Linked DNA regions of Homo sapiens: region 1 is linked to region 2. The links come from fine-mapping of genetic effects on plasma protein levels. Region 2 holds a variant in brackets. A gene starts in the other region. All regions are shown on their reverse strands.

Region 1 (8,000 bases), not on the chromosome of region 2:
CCCAGCCCACTGCACCCTGGCCTCCCACAAGCCCCCTCGCAGCCGCCCAGCCACACTCACTGTGCACTCAGCCGTCGATACACTGGTCTGTTAGGGAGAAAGTCCGTCAGAACAGGCAGCTGTGTGTGTGTGTGCGTGTATGAGTGTGTGTGTGTGATCCCTGACTGCCAGGTCCTCTGCACTGCCCCTGGGCAGCCCCTGCCCCACCTGGCCCAGCTGCAGAAGATATGGGGGTTCCTTTCAGAGATGGGGCAACAGAGGGGTGGATGGCAGGGCAGGGGATGTGGGAGAAAGGCCTGGGGAGGGGCTGCCCTGAGTGAGGCCCAGCTCCCAGGCTCCTCGGGCACCCAGGTCTCCTGCCTGTTTACCAGTCCAGGCAGTCTCTCAGCCTGGGGGAGGCCAGTGGCTCTCTGAATGGCCTGGCTGGAGCCTCCTGCCCAAGCCAGGCTCCCTGGAGTCAAGGACAGCTCCCAAGTCAGTGGTGAGCAAGTCCCCAGGGGAGAGAGGACAGCCAGGACAGCAAAACCCAGGGTGACGAGGCCTGGGAGGGTCGGGGGAGATGGCCCAGAACAAGGGGGCCTGGGAGGGTGGCCAGAGGTGTCAGGCCAGTGAGACTGAGAAATGGATACTCAGGCCTGGGCCTGAAATCCTTGTCTGGGCAGACCCGGGCTAAACTGCCAGGAAAGAGCACTTGCGGCCTGGGTCCCTGGGAGTCCCATAGACCCTGGGGTGGGGCACAGTCTTCCTGGGCCCAGAGTGGCTTCCAAGGAGCTCCTGGACCATCCACTGCTCCAGTGACTGAAGCTGAGGACGGAGTCCCTCCTCTCCCTGATCCCTGGTAGGGAAGCATCCTGCCTGAACAGTCCCCATGTCCCCGTCCCCTCATCCAGACTGGCCATTACCGATTGGGACAGGGAAGACGATGTGGTTTTCAGGGAGGCCCAGAGATTTGGAGAAGCGGATGAAGTTCTCCTTTAGTTCCGAAGTCAGCTCCTTGGTTCTCCCTGTGACCAAGATGGCCAGTGAGTGGCTGGCAGACACCACATAAATATCGTTGAATGAGTAGATGAGGCCTCAGATCCCTTCCTCATGGGGGACCGGCCTCCCCTCCCACTAAGTGTGATCAGGAGCCAGTCCCCGAGGGGATGGGAGAGGACCCACCGTAGAGGGTGATCTTGAAGTACTCCCTGTTTTGAGAAACTTTCTTGAAGAACACCATAGCATGCTGGTTGTAGTTGGTGCTCACCACTCGGACGAGGTAACTCGTTAATCCAGGGTAACCTGCAGGCGTGGACGGTGAGGGGTCAGCCCTGCCCTGGATGGGAGGAGGGAGCTGTCCCCTCCCTCCCCAGCCCATCAACGTGGGCTTCTCCCCATACAACACATCTGTGTGGAGGGGCAGGAAGGTCTGTGCCCCTACCCAGCTCCCCGGAGCCCCAACTCAGTGCCCCACCTCACTCAAGACTCACTCTTAATGTTGCCCAGCGTGAACTCGCCGGGCTGGCAACCTGGAACAAAAGTCCTGATCCAGTAGTCACACTTCTTTTTCCTTGGGAGGGAGAGATGGGTGGGTGAGAGGGGAGACAACCCAGGCTTGGGCCTCCTGTGCTGGACAAGGTGGGGCCAGGGCAGCAGCAGGGTTCTGTTGCTCTCAGTCCGGCCCAACCCGTGACAGCTCATCCCCCACTACCTGGAGGGGCCCTACCCCACCCAGCCGAGATGGGCCTGGGCCTTCTCCCTGAGCTGACACCAGGCTGTCCCTCCTGGCCTGCCTGGGGCCCCTGGACCCCACTCAGACCCTCCAGCACCCGATGTCCTTCTTTCCTTTGGCTGCCTCCCTGGGTGGCTTTCACCCCCCCCGCCACCCAACACACAGAAACCCTGCATTTCTCCCCTGCACTCAGCTTGCTGCTTCCCTTCCTATACCCTCTCCCGGGGATCCACCTCGGTACTTCCAGTCTGCTCCATGCCAGCCGTTCCCCTAGCTCTCGGGTCAAACCTGACCCCATCCTTGAGTCCTCCCACTTCCCATCCCCTGGCACCCCAGGGCTGAGCTCCCCAACCTGTCTGTATTCTGCTCCTTGCTCCACAAATGCCCCAATCCCAATCCACTCAGCTGCCAGAGTCAGAAACCCACTGGGGGCGGCTGATCCCTGGCTCCCTGCCTCTTCACCCTGCGCCTGTTCTCTCACACCTGTGACGGCCCCGCTTCACTTTCGCTGGTCTCCCGACCCCCTAGGCTGCACCCCACCAAGTCTCCCCACCCTGCGGCCCAAGAGCCCTGCTCTAAGCCACTCCGCAGCAGATCCGCTGGGGCGGGGCCTGAGGACCGTGCTAGGTGCTAGCGTGGCCACCTGCCCCTCCAGGCTGCTCAGCAGCTCTGCTCAGGGTGACCCTGCGATGGCTTGCTCCTTCCTGAAGGGGGGGCTCTCTCTGACTCCAGCCCCTGCCGGGAACACCCCACATTTCCTTTTGAAGCAGGTTGGCTCTTTTAAGGCCACCTCCCTGGAAGCCTTCCATGAAGGCACTGGGTGGGGTTCCAGGCTGGATCCAGTGTCCCCTCCTCCCGCTCCCAGGCACCCCTCCTCTCTCCGTCTTGTTTTCTAACGACTGTGCATGTCCATCCCCACCACTGTCTGTGTGTCTGCATGGAAATGTGCTATAAACGTTGCTCTAAGGAACAGAGGAAGGATGAACACAGATGAATTCCGGGCAGAACAGCGAGGTGAACGACAGGATCCCTCAGCTTTGGCCATCCCTTGCCTGTGACGTCAGTCTGACTCTCACACCCCCAGGAGATGTCGGCCCTCACCTAAACAGGACGGAGGTGACATTGTAGCTCTTGTCTTCTTTCAGCTCATAGATGGTGGCATACATCTTTTGCGGGTCTTTGTCTTCTCTGAGAATTGCATTCCCTGCCAGGCCTACCACATACCACTTCCCCTGGAACTGCAAGGGACTGATAAGAGGCACAACCCAGGAATGGCCCTAGGAGCCACCCCTCCAGCTCTGTCCCTGTGGCACCTCTGGGCCGCCCAGCTTGGAACCATGAGCCCCTCTAGCTGGGCAGCAGGGCCCAGGCTGGGCCTGCACTGGTGAAGGGGCAGGAGCAGGAGGCCATCAGTCCAGAAGGGAGTCCTGGGGGAAGAGGCGGTTCTGAGTCTGGCAGGGAGGAGGGTGACCTCCTCACTGGAGGAGGCATGTGGCTGGTGGGCCTTCCTGAGCCTCAGTTTCCTCATCTGTGCAGGGGGACTAAAAGTGCTCCCACCTTCTTTGGACAATGGGGGTTATGGGAGAGGGGATGTGGACCTGGGGGAGTCTGTTCAGGCTGAGAGGGGGTGGGGATGGGGGGAAGGGGCATGGTTTCCACCAGGGGACCCTGGTGGCACAGAGTGAGCTGAAACCTGGACCCTGGACTCCTAGAGTCCTGCCCAACGCTCTTCCTGAGTCTCTTCACCTCTCCTCCCCTCTGCTCCCACTCTTCCCCAGGCCCTGCCTGCAGGTGCCCCTCTTGGCCCCTTACTTGGTTGTCCTGGAAGTTCTGCTGCAGAGGGACCTTGCTCAGAGGTGGGGCTGGGATCAGGTCTGAGGTGGAGTCCTGGGCCTGGGCATGCAGAGCCCCCAACAGGGCTAGGCCCAGCCACAGGAGACCTAGGGGCATGATTTCAGGGCCGAGGAAGCAGGCGCTGTGGTGGCTGCTGGGCCTGGCAGGGGTGGAAGAGGAGGTGGCGAGTGAGAGGCTCACCTGGGTGGCCCTATTTATGGGATCTAGGGTGGGTTGATTCATTCTTTGCCAAGGCCAGGAATGTGAGGCAATTGCCAGCAACTCCTGCGGAAACACTTGGCAAGATTTCTGCACCTGGTCAGGATTGGGCAAGACAGAGGGACGGGGAGAGTGAGGGACATTCCCGGAGTGCTGCACCTCTGGCAGGGACAACGACTCCCTCTGTGCCTTCCTTGTGCTGTTTCTTTCTTCTGATTGCCCTGTATGTGGGCCGGTGGCCTGTGAGCCGGAAGAGCTGTCATCTCTGACCCCCCTGCTCAGCTGGATCCCAGGGTGGGGTATGTGCCCTGTGGTCCCCTCCCCACACCCACAGAAAGGAAAGAATGAATGCCTCCTTCCAACAGATCATGTGCTGTTTCCTGGTTCTTTTAAGGGTCAGGGAAGGGTGGGGTGGCTGACAGTGGACAAGGAAAAACAAGGCGTCTGCTCTGAACTCATGGAGCCCAGAATCATGGCCCTCCCAGGAGCCCCAGTCCAGGACCTGCATGTGCTCCAGGGGCCTTGAGACAGCCCCTTGCCCCTCTCCTTGCCCCATTTGCAGGAGGGGACCCCAGTGGACCCCTGAGGGACCCTTCCTCTCCTGTGAGTGCAGTGGGAAGAGACCCCACACAGGGCACATGGGTTGAGTGCTGAGGCTACAGTCCCTGTCCTGGGTGAGTTGGGCTGATGTGTGGGGGCGTGAAGGCGCCACACTGCTGCTCTGGACACCTGTTGCTTTGGGTCACTGACAGTGCAAGGATCTGGCCTTATCCTTGAGGTCACTGAGACCATCCCCCTGACTCTAGTCACAGCCTTTTTCCATTGAACCCAGCAGCCCAGGCCAGGGGTTCTGGAACTGTCACCGAGATGGCTGGTCCCAGCCTTGTCCAGCAGGGAAGCAGTTATCTCAACGGGGGCCTGGCTGGCATCCTCGGGAGGCAGCGATGGATCGTAGGCCCTGTGCAGTGTCCGCAGAGATGGCTCACCCATGAGGGCTGAGGCCGTCCTGGATGCCTGACCTGAGGCTGGACTGAGGGTTCGCTGGTTTTAGAGCTTTCAATGGGACTAACGGGGACCTCACTGGCTCTGCCTACGTGCTGCTTGGGATCCCCAATCTGGGCTTGGGGGCAGCAGGGCCTCAGGGAAGGGGCTCTGGGAGTCCTGAGCTGGGGTTAGTCTAGAGAGGCACCCACTGGATCCCTGCCCCCTCAGGCCCTGTCCTGCCTGCCCGATTGGATGATGAAAGGGCAGGAAGCAAAGATGAGTAAAACTGCAGGGGAACGATGTTGCACCAAAGCCTTCCCTTTCTAGAGGTAGCCAGTGGCTACTCGCTCCCTCCGAACCCCCTCTTCCCCTCATGACCCTGTTCCCAGGAACTCCACCTCTGCTACTGTCTTTGACCTTAAAAAGTATCCTCTGCCAGGCCGGGTGCGGTGGCTCACATCTGTAATCCCAGCATTTGGGAGGCTGAGGCGGGTGGATCACGAGGTCAGGAGTTCGAGACCAGTCTGGCCAACACGGTGAAACCCCATCTCTACTAAAAATACAAAAATTAGCAGGGCATGGTGGCAGGCGCCTGTAATCCCAGCTACTCGGGAGGCTGAGGCAGAAGAACAGCTTGAACCTGGGAGGCGGAGGTTGCAGTGAGCCGAGATCACGCCTTTGCACTTTAGCCTGGAACAGAGCGATATTCTGTCTTAAAAAAAAAAAAAAAAAGGTATCCTCGGCTGGGCGCAGTGGCTCTCGCCTGTAACTCCAGCACTTTGGGAGACTGAGGCGGGTGGATAACCTGAGGTCAGGTGTTCAAGACCAGCCTGACCAACATGGTGAAACCCTGTCTCTAGTAAAAATACAAAGATTAGTTGGGCATGGTGGCGCATGCCTGTAATCCCAACTACTCGGGAAGCTGAGGCAGAAGAATTGCTTGAACCTGGGAGGCGGAGGTTGCAGTGAGCCAAGGTTGCGCCATTGCACTCCAGCCTGGGCGACAGAGGGAGACTCCATCTCGGGGAAAAAAAAAATGTATCCTCAGGGACTAGCCTGGCCAATATGGCAAAACCCCGTCTCTACTAAAAATACAAAAATTAGCCAGGTGGGGTGATGCATGCCTATGATCCCAACTACTCAGGAGGCTGAGGCAGGAGAATGGCTTGAACCCGGGAGGCGGAGGCTGCAGTGAGCCAAGATCGCACCACTGCACTCCAGCCTGGGAGACAGAGTGAGACCCTGTCTGAAAAAAGAAAAAAAAAACCACGTATCCTCGGGGAGGCTGAGGTGGGAGGATCACTTGGGCCCAGGAAGCCGAGGCTGCAGTGAGCTATGATTGTGCCACTGCACTCCAGCCTGGATGATAGAGTGACCTAAATCTAAAAAGTACCCTCTAGTCTACGGTGACTGCTTCACGTAGCTGAGACCAGCGGGTGGAGCCCCAGAGAATTTGAAGTTGGGGGTGAGGCAGTGTCATGGATCTCTGAGGACCCAGGACTCCAGGGTATGAATGTGGTGGGTGAGCAGGGCACTGGGTCCACAGTGGGAAGACACCAGAGCCAGGTGCAGAAGGGGAGATAGTCCCGCTTGGGGGTCCCCCAGGCTGGCTTGAAGCCTGGCTCCTCCGCATGCATGCAGATCTCTGCCTAGCTCCCACACAAATCAGGCGCTCCTCTGTAGAGAGGGCAGCTCTGCGCTTCTGTGAGGTCATGCATGGACAGCACCGGGCCCCAGGGTGTCCCTACACAAGGCTGAGTTTCTGATCAAACCCATGCAGGGCTCATTCCTCTCTCTGCACCAGCTCCAGACCTGTCTCCTACCCACTGGCCTTGGCTCTCTTCAGAGTCTAGCAGGGCTGCAGGGAGGGGGTCAGCTCTACATAGACCCACCACACAAGCTTCAGGACTCAGCACTAGGAAGGTTGGGTAAGGACTGTGGTGTAGACCTCCCATTCAGACTTGACCGACTCCAAGGGCTCCAGGGTCAACAGGACACTGGGGCCCCATTCCTCACCCACCCCCTTTCCACTGGGCCCCATTCATTGGGCCCTAGCCAATGAGGGTACACAAGTGTTCACACTGCTCAGCGCTTGGGGGAGTCCCTGGACCCCGGGGCTCTTGGGACAATCTCCACGACACGTGTGGCACTGTGCATGGCATGACAGGCACCCACCTGCCTCCCCTCGGCCCCTCCTATGGTTTCCACCGTGGCCCCTGGACTGGGCCTGCTTTCTCTCAAGGAGCTGCAGGTGCCTCTAGTGAGCCCTCAACGAGCCACACAGAAGCAATGGGGCCAAGCCCCTCCTGAGAGGAGCTGGGCTGGGCTCCCAAGTCCTGCTGTGCAGGTCGGCTTAGCAACAGCAGGAGCTTAAAGACAGGTCCCTGCCTGGGTTTTCCGTGGCCAGAGACCAGAAGTACTCCGGCTGCTCCCGACCTCCCCTCGCAGTCTCTGGCAGGCAGCTGTCCCCACTCTCCACGCCCAAGAGTGGGTGCTCCCTGGAGACTGCAGCAGCCTGTCCTCCCATGGAGAGGCCCAGGTCTCATCCATGCATGAAGGCAGCAAGATGCTTCCTGGCGGTCCTTACATCTCAGGAATCCAGTCTGACTCCCCATTCTGGTTTCCGGATCTTGTGAGTAGTGTTCAGCGTGGCCATGAATGGTTAACCCTCTGACGTGTTTGAAGGCTGGGCAGGAGGTGACTGGCTAGGCTTCTAGGAGCCAGGTACCACACCTGGAAGGAGTCTACAGTCAAGATGCCCCCAGGAGGCCCAGTCACAGATGCAGGAAGTCTTGGTGTCTGCAGATCAGCTCTCCTTGGTCACGGCAGGTCCGGGCTGGGCACCCGACTCTCAAACACCCAGGAACGGGAGGGGCTGTTTAGTGTGAGGAGCTTGCCCTGCCAGGGTCTTGGGCTGAGTCTCCTGTTTCCAGAAACAGTTTTCCAACCCCCATCCTCTCTCATGCCAAGGCTCGCCAAGGGGCCTTGAGGTCCTCCTGCCCCTTCTACCTGACAGGGACCCTGCCCGCCTGTGAAAATCCCCTCCCAACCCTCCCCCAAGTACACCCACTGGATTCCTCCCTCTGGTGAACCCCTGGGGTCCACCAGACAGGGGGAAGCGGGCCCTGCTGCTTGAGGTCTAGGCCCAGGGCCCTTGCTGGTTCCATCCCTTGGTGCCTGGCCCAGGCATGCTGCTTAGATGGGTGCTCTGCCTTTTACTCCAGAGCCTGGACTCCTATGCGGGCAAGAGGGC
Region 2 (8,000 bases):
AATTGTCTCCCTTCTTACCTTTTTTTCTTTTTACCTTTTTCCAGGGTTGGGAGGAAGGGAAGGCAGGAATTGGTGACTGCAGTTCTTTCCTATAGGTCAAGGTTTGGGAGACTTTTAGATTGAGCAATTCAGTGGTTGCAGGTTATCTTGCAGGGCAGAGCAAAGGCAGGAATCATACATGCCTTTGCCCATGCCTGTGCCCATTCATGAGTGTGAGTGCATACACGCTAAGCAGCAAGTTAGTGCTGTCTTCATCTTATAATGGAAAGGACAGATTTTTTGGAGAATGAGGATTATAAAACACTTTTCCCTTCCCTACTTGTCTGCTAAATTACTAAGACTGTATGTTTGGGAGCTGAAGTTCGGTTAAGTCATATTTTACATTCTTGCCAACTAATCCTTTTTTTTAATTATCACCTAACACCATGCAGACCCAAGGGAGGAAAGGTTTCAGACACTAGGAAGAGTGGAGCAGTTGAAGGACAGAAGATTCCAATTGCACACACCTTTTTTGAGCCCCTACTACATATCAGGCAATGTGGCCAATGCAGGACCTCAGTGGTCTTTAACAACTCTGTCCCTTTGCTCCTGGGACTTCTCATCTAGTAGGGAAGCCAGCCCTTGAACAAGAGTGTAGAAAATACATCTGCCTGTGGTGAAACCCCGTCTCTACTAAAAATACAAAAAAATTAGCTGGGCGTAGTGGCGGGCACCTATAATCCCAGCTACTCAGGAGGCTGAGGCAGAGAATTGCTTGAACCGGGGAGGTGGAGGTTGCAGTGAGCCAAGATCGCGCCACTGCAGTCCAGCCTGGGCAACAGAGCGAGACTCCGTCTCAAAAATAAATAAATAAATAAATAAATAAATAAATAAATAAATAAATAAATATTAAAAATTTAAAAATAAAAATAACAACAACAACAAAGAAAATACATCTTCCTGTTCCACAGTGTTTCCTGGGGCTTAGCCTAGGAGTGACCTACAGAATCATCTCTGTAGGCTGCAGACCCTGTTTCTGTAAACATGAGGATGTATAATGGCATCTTAGGACAGCAGTTTTTACCTGTGAATGCAATTATGGCATTAACCTTATGCTGTTACTCTAAGAAGTTCAAAAATACTGCTCTAAGAAGCAAGAATTAAAATGAAATGTGTTTTTTTATTATAAGAGCCAAAGATTCGGATATGGACTCTTATCTCAGAGATTGCTTCAATATATAGAAGCTATTTAGAAGGGGGTCATGTAAGCCAAAGACAAAACTTGTATTGCTCAAAAGAGGAAGAGCTTTTTACAAATTCACTAATAACTCTTTCATAAGAACTGTAACCATTTGCTACTTTGAAATGAAAAGGGTTCCTCTTATAAACTAATAGAAACTATTGAGCAGAAGTGATTACTGACACTTAAAGGTAGAAAATGGAAATAAGAATCTGGTAAGTTATAGGCATGTTTGCCAGATTCCTTGAATTGTTTGGTCATTTAAATGCTGCGAGGATGTATATATCAAAAGGGCTTAGGTCTAAAATGATTTTCACTAGAAAAACCAGTAAGTCAGTCTTAAGACTTTTCTATGGCAAATTTATAATTTGAGGCGTTTCTCTCTTTTCCCCTCATTTTAGCTTGTCAAAATTCCCAAAAATGATCCCCTCAATGAAGTTCATAACTTTAACTTTTATTTGTCAAATGTGGGCAAAGACAACCCTCAGGGCAGCTTTGACTGCATCCAGCAAACATTCTCCAGGTAAGTACTTTTCAAGGTACACTGAAGGGGAAAAATTTTTTATTTAAGAGGGTTTTAGAAAATTAAACAATACAATACATAATATTCATCCATAAACGTGTATTAAATTGAATTACAGAGCTCATTTATTTATCTGAAAAATATTAAGCACCTACTGTGTAATAGAAATTTCATTTGTAATGGGGATATAATCACAACAGTTCAAAGATTTTTGGTCTAATGGGGCTTTTAAGGTACAGAAGATATTTTTTAACCTATAAAAATGCAGTTTTTGAAAACTAAAGGCAATTTGAGGATTTTTTTTAGAAATATTTAATTCATTGAATTTAAGCAAGAATCTTATAGCATATTTGAGGCTCATACTCCAGGGTAAAGAAGTTAAAAATATCCATCTTGCATGCTTTCTTCCTTCTTCCCTGTTCAAGCCATGTTCTAAGGTAGAAGGTAGATTTTTAAACATCTTTATTCTACAGCTGCATGGAAACTAGAAATTAACCCAGTAAAGCAGTCTCTCCTTCTTCTTAAAAAAAAAGAAAAAAAAAAAAAGGAGGAGGAAGACAAGAATATACACACCCACACCCTAGGGTACCATGGGACGCTTATCTACTTAGATCCTCTGTAAACAATAAGCCACTTGTTTCACTCTTCATTGCTTTGGTTGTTTCTGATTAAAGAATAGGCCCTTGAGCAGGAGTTTGTTCTGCCCCTGGATATAGACAAGGGAGGTTAGGGTCTCTCTCATTTCCTCCTCATGTAAGGCTTTGACATTAGCCCCAAGTACCCTAGACCAGCGTATCTCTGTGACTTATCTGTGCAGTACTTGAAACTATGTAAGTACTTGCTCAATGTGGGGGAAAAGAAGAAGCAAAGTTGTGTTTCCAGCAGGTACAGGAGGCAGAGATACAAAATAAGACACTGACAGAGTTTTACCTTTATCCTCCCATTTAAGGTGTCTACGTAACTTTTTGTTATTTAATCTGTCATTTTCCCCAAGGATATATTCATGTTGCTTTCTGAAAATTACCCACCTTCAAACTTAAATGTTTTGGCATAAATTGCTATATTGTAGATTATATAGACTTTTCTGTGCTGTCCACTGTGATGGCCACTGGCCACATTGGCTATTTACATTTCAACTGATAAAAAATTAAATAAAATTTAAAACATCATTGCACATTCACACTAACCACATTTTGTGGTCTCAGTAGCTACCTGTTACTATCATAGTAGACAGCACAGTTATATAACATTTTCACTCTTGCAAAATGTTCTATTGATCAGCACTATGATAGATTATAGAATCACCAAGTATTAGGGTCCTTAGTGATTGTGTGAGTCAATCCCTTCATTTCACAGGTGATTTATCCAGAGTTATGTAGCTGGTTAGTTAGTGGCTAGGCTAAATGAGAACTGAGTTCTTCTAATTCCCACCCCAGTATTCTTTACACACAACATGGTACACTAATTTTTAATTGTGGTGCTTGTCTCTAGATTGTTGTTTTATTATAGTGAGCACATTTTGATATCAAATTGAACAATGTCCCCTTAGGAATTTTATTAAGGAGCTTAATCCTCTCTTCAAAAGCATTCATATCATTGTAAGTAATATGGCTTTACTCTTACATTATAAATACCCTGTGTGGTTATTTCTACCTTCCTTGTTTGGAAA[G/AG]GATTTAAGGTCACTTACAAAACTATGTATGATGCAGTAAGAGAATAGAAACACTTATTGTGAAAATATTGGGGCAAATGTATCCCCTCTGTATAATCCAAGGTGCCTTATAAAATGAGGTAGTAAGGGTATAAATTGAAGTCTGCCACTAGGAAAACAAAAGCACTAGCTTTTGTTCTCAGGCTTTCACTTCACAGCCTGGCAAGCTGACCTGTCCATAATCTGGCTTCACCTTTTCCATTCAATTTAATTTCCATTTTCCTTATGGATCTTTTCTCTCTGACCACAGTGCATGCTCTTCAAGGTCAGAGGCTTTCTTATGCCCTTTTTCTAATTTCACAGTGCTGACTGAGCTCAAAATACATGCTTATTGACTCAACCTGGAGATAAAAGGGTAAAAACAGATGCTCAGTAAATAAATGTTCAACAAATACAAATTAACTAGTCTTCTTATCTATATTTTTAAACTTCCTTGATTCTCACTTTTCTCATATATAAAATGAAATCAATGTCACAGTCAAAATTGCCTTTCAAAAATTCCTTAAGTCTACCCATTTTCAGACTTAGTGAAAAATATATAGTCTAGGACCTATAGTGTATAATAATGCACACTTAAGCGAAGGAAATGGTGAGCTAGGCTAGAGAAAGACTAAGGGAGCATTTATATACATTTGTCTAAAATATTTAAACTTTCAGGGTAACTCGGTTGAGAAGGGATGAGTGAAGAATTCTAGAGAGTACCTTCTTGCCTACAGCGTTTAGCTCCGTTTGTTTTGCATAAAGATCTGTTTTCTGACTTCGCATGAGGGGCAGTATGTTCAGCTTATTCTCACTATGTAAATTACTTAGTAAATAATAGGAAGAGATGTTGAAATACAAACTTTCTGCCACCAGACCTTCACTCTATTGCAGTCATTTTCTCCCACTCTCCCCCCTCTCTCCCACTTCCTCTGAGGATTACCTTCCCCTCTCTCAGCATTCCTCTGTCAGTGGGTTTTTTTTTTTTCCTTTGGCATGCAAACATGCTCAAGTCTGTCTTATTAAAAAAGAAAATAAAAAACAAAAACAACCTCTCTTACATTCACTTCTCAACCCAAAGTCTGGCTTCAGTGCCCACCATTCCACTGAAACTGCTTCCCCAAGGGAGCTGTGACCTCCCTGCCCCCAAAATCCAGTGGATGTGTTATTGGTTCCTTATTATTCTGGACTTGTTGCCAGTGTTGCACACTGTTGACCACTCTCTCCTGCTTGAAGCGTCTGTTCCAGTGGCTTACATTACACAGTACTCTTCTGGTTTCCTTCCTACCTCTGTAGCTGTGGCTTTTCAGTCTCATGTGGTCTTCTTTTCTTCCTTTTGCTTAAATACTAGTGTTCTTCACAGTTGGTTCCCTCCTGAGACCCCTTCTCTCCTCATTCCTTCAAGGTCACCATCTCCAACACTGAACTTATGTTCTTTGTCCCAGTCCTGTCTCCCAACCTGTCCTTCATCTTGTGTTCAGTGTTTCAGTACATAGCAGCTTCCATATACCTCGTGACCTGGGCATGATCTTTAACTTTTTTCCCCCACCTCTCTCTGAGTGTGGCTAACTACTGACCACGTTTTGTCAGTTCCACTTCCTCACTATCTCTGGAAGCTGTGTACTATTCTACACTCTCACTGCCCTACTCTGGTTCATGCCATCACTGCTTGCCTGTAATCCTTCAGTAGCATCCTAAGTGGCCTCTTTTCTTTCCTTCTGGTGTCCCCCTTCCTCTCAATCTATCCTCCATCCAGATTGAGCTTTCTGCAATACAAATGAGTTATTTTCTCTCCCCTGATTTCAGCCTCTCGTTATCCTTTGGATAAGGTCCAAAACCTGTAACACATGACCCTCAGAGCCCTTTGTGATGTATTTCTCATTCCCTCTTCAGCTTCAGCTGTAATTGTCCTTCCCAACTTTCTTTGGACAATTTGAAAACCTTCTTTTTGCTCTTCCTGGCCCTGCACAGATTAGTTGTCCTCCCTGAACACTTTCATTCTTCTTCCCCCTTGCCCAGTCATCTTTCTAGATCACCTCAGGCATCACCTCCTCTGGGAAGTCCAGGTGAGATTACCTTTCTGGGAGTCCTCTGCTCCCTGGAATTTGTCACACTGTGTTATGATTTCCAGTTTGTCCATCCTTGTCACCCATTAGTTCCTTGAAAGAGGGACCACAACTGTTAGTTCTTGTCACAACCTCTCTGCTTCACACATTGCTAGGCATGCAGTCCCTGCCCAATAAATATTTATGAGATGAATTAACTGGTTTTTGTGTGTGTGTTTTTCTTAAATAGCATTTGTAAAGACAGTTATTAGCAATTTATAAAGATTTTATCAGCCAGGTGCGGTGGCTCACGCCTGTAATCCCAGCACTTTGGGAGGCCAAGGCGAGTGTTCATGAGGTCAAGAGATCAAGACCATCCTGGCCAACATGGTGAAACCCTGTCTCTACTAAAAATACAAAAATTAGCTGGGCATGGTGGCATGTGCCTGTAGTCCCAGCTACTTGGGAGGCTGAGGCAGGAGAATCACTTGAACCCGGGAGGCAGAGCTTGCAGTGAGCCAAGATTGCACCACTGCACTCCAGCCTGGCAACAGAGCGAGACTCCATCTCAAAAAAAAATTATCAACCTTTATTTCTTTGTATTATAACAAAGTTACTTCTAATTAAGTTTGGATATAGATGATCAGAGCTGTAGTGTCACTTTCATTAGTTTTATATTCCAGTTTGTTTTCAGGCCATAGCAATTTCTTTATAAAATACCAGTTATGACTGTGACCATGATCCCCCTAATATTAACATGTTACTTTGAAACAGAGCCATCTTCTAGGTCCATGTTAATATTCATGATTATTTCAATAAAAAGTGTTTTGTTCTGTTTTGTTTTTTTGAGATGGGGTCTCATTCTGTTGCCCAGGCTGGAGTGCAGTGGCGCCATCTCAGCTTACTGCAACCTTCACATCCTGGGCTCAAGAGACCCTCCCACTTCAGTCTCCTGACTAGCTGGAACTTCAGGCACACGCCACCATGCCCAGCTAATTTTTGTAGAGATGGGGTTTCTCCATGTTGCCCAGGCTGGTCTCAAACTCCTGAACTCAAGCAATCCACCTGCCTTGGCCTCCCAAAGTGTTGGGATTACAGGGATGAGCCACCGTGCCTGGCCTTTAAAAAAAAATTGCTATAAAAATCATTTGCCCTGTGTTTTCTTCAACATTTGCTAATAAGTAGGTCATCTTATATAGAGATTTAACAAAGTAAATACAAATTCTGCAAATTTTTAGGAACTTTTTGGACTAATAATATTAAAGTAAGCTTTAATTTTTGTCAGTATGTTAGCCTTAAAATTAATATATTATTTAAAATAAAAAAGAATGTGTGGTGAGTCCGTTTCAACTAGTCAGTCCAGACCATGTATATTGTGGTTTTACTAAAACTAAACTTTTTAACTTTCCTCATATCAGTGTTAGATAATTCTTTAAAATAGTTAACAGTTAAATAAAACAACTACAATGCCCATCAGAACTCTGGTCTCACTCTAAATACTGATTTTTTTTCTTTTTCAAAATTTTATGGATTTGGTCTCTGAGAGCTCACTTCATCCATTATATAAAGAATATGAAAAAAAGTGAAGAGAAGGATCTTAGATATTTTAAATAGCATTTACATTTAAAAATTAATATTAGTTATTTTAGGATTGCAAACTTAGTTGGGCTGCTGATTTTAGGATTATATAATTCTTGTTTGCCTTTATTGTACAAAATGAAGGTCATGTCTAACAAAGCCACTGACTTACTTGACAGCTCTGGAGCCTCCCAGCTCAATTGCCTGGGATTTATACAAGATAAAATTACAGTGTGTGCAACAAACGACTCGTATCAGATGACACGAGAAAGAATGACCCAGGCAGAGGAGGAATCCCGCAACCGAAGCACAAAAGTTATCAAACCCGGTGGACCATATGTAGGTTTGTATAGATATCTTTCTTCCTCTTGCTGATTGATTGGAGTAATTCAAGATCACCATAGGTAAATACCAGTAATATTAACTTAATGAAAACACAGAAACTAGTTTTCAGAACATTTTGGATAACATGGTGAGAAAAACAAAGTTATTTGTTCTCTTCAGACTGCCAGTAAATTGAAGAGCATATTTTAAAGTTCTATGACTTTCCTAAATCCTGAATCTTCGTTGGCTACTTACTATTATTTTATAGTACTGGGATCTGGTCACATTACTGCGTGAAGTTGCAATCGTGGTACCGTTGTGTTTTCTTTGTCACTAGATGATGTAATTTCAGTGATGGATACTATGGTTCTTGTTTTGCCTTTTTGTAGGGCTATTTTTATAGTAAAATCTATTAGTAGAATTTATGGGTTGATAATCTCATTGTTGTAGATTTTGCTTACATTTTCAGAGCATCTTTGTACAACAAGGATTTTTCATTACAAAAATATAAAATGTGCTTATAGCAAAGCATTACAACAGAGCATTAGACTGATGTCTCTTTGGTTCCTCAGTTGTGATCCTCATCCTCATCTATCCATTAATTAAGACCCTATCCGACCCCCA

Alleles and levels. Positions count from the first base shown, and alleles are read on the strand shown. Strength reflects both the effect of a copy and how common the allele is.
As copies of AG replace G in region 2, the plasma level of the protein whose gene starts at base 3,734 in region 1 goes up (weak association).

Evidence for each region. A credible set is the group of variants that fine-mapping cannot tell apart. PIP is the chance, under the fine-mapping model, that this variant and not a neighbour inherited with it causes the effect. The UK Biobank Pharma Proteomics Project read protein levels with antibody pairs (Olink). The fine-mapping took linkage between variants from a reference panel, not from the people measured, so its PIPs are less certain.
Region 1: it holds the start of LCN2, and the variant in region 2 is the best candidate, but not a certain one, in a credible set for the plasma level of the LCN2 protein (UK Biobank, PIP 0.59).

The regions. Positions count from the first base shown.
Region 1 is chr9:128,145,187-128,153,186 of GRCh38, reverse strand. It overlaps LCN2 (lipocalin 2), which reads right to left and starts at 3,734. Exons shown (of 7, transcript NM_005564.5): 1 at 3,524-3,734; 2 at 2,813-2,949; 3 at 1,470-1,549; 4 at 1,162-1,281; 5 at 903-1,004; 6 at 61-87. The coding sequence starts at 3,661. The coding sequence ends at 68. RefSeq lists a silencer at 2,335-2,384 and an enhancer at 6,514-7,013.
Region 2 is chr5:95,913,166-95,921,165 of GRCh38, reverse strand. It overlaps ELL2 (elongation factor for RNA polymerase II 2), which reads left to right. Exons shown (of 12, transcript NM_012081.6): 3 at 1,621-1,742; 4 at 7,232-7,395. Among named protein-coding and RNA genes, the nearest start is that of ELL2, 45 kb to the left of the region's middle. The variant G/AG (reference allele first, on the strand shown) is at 3,412.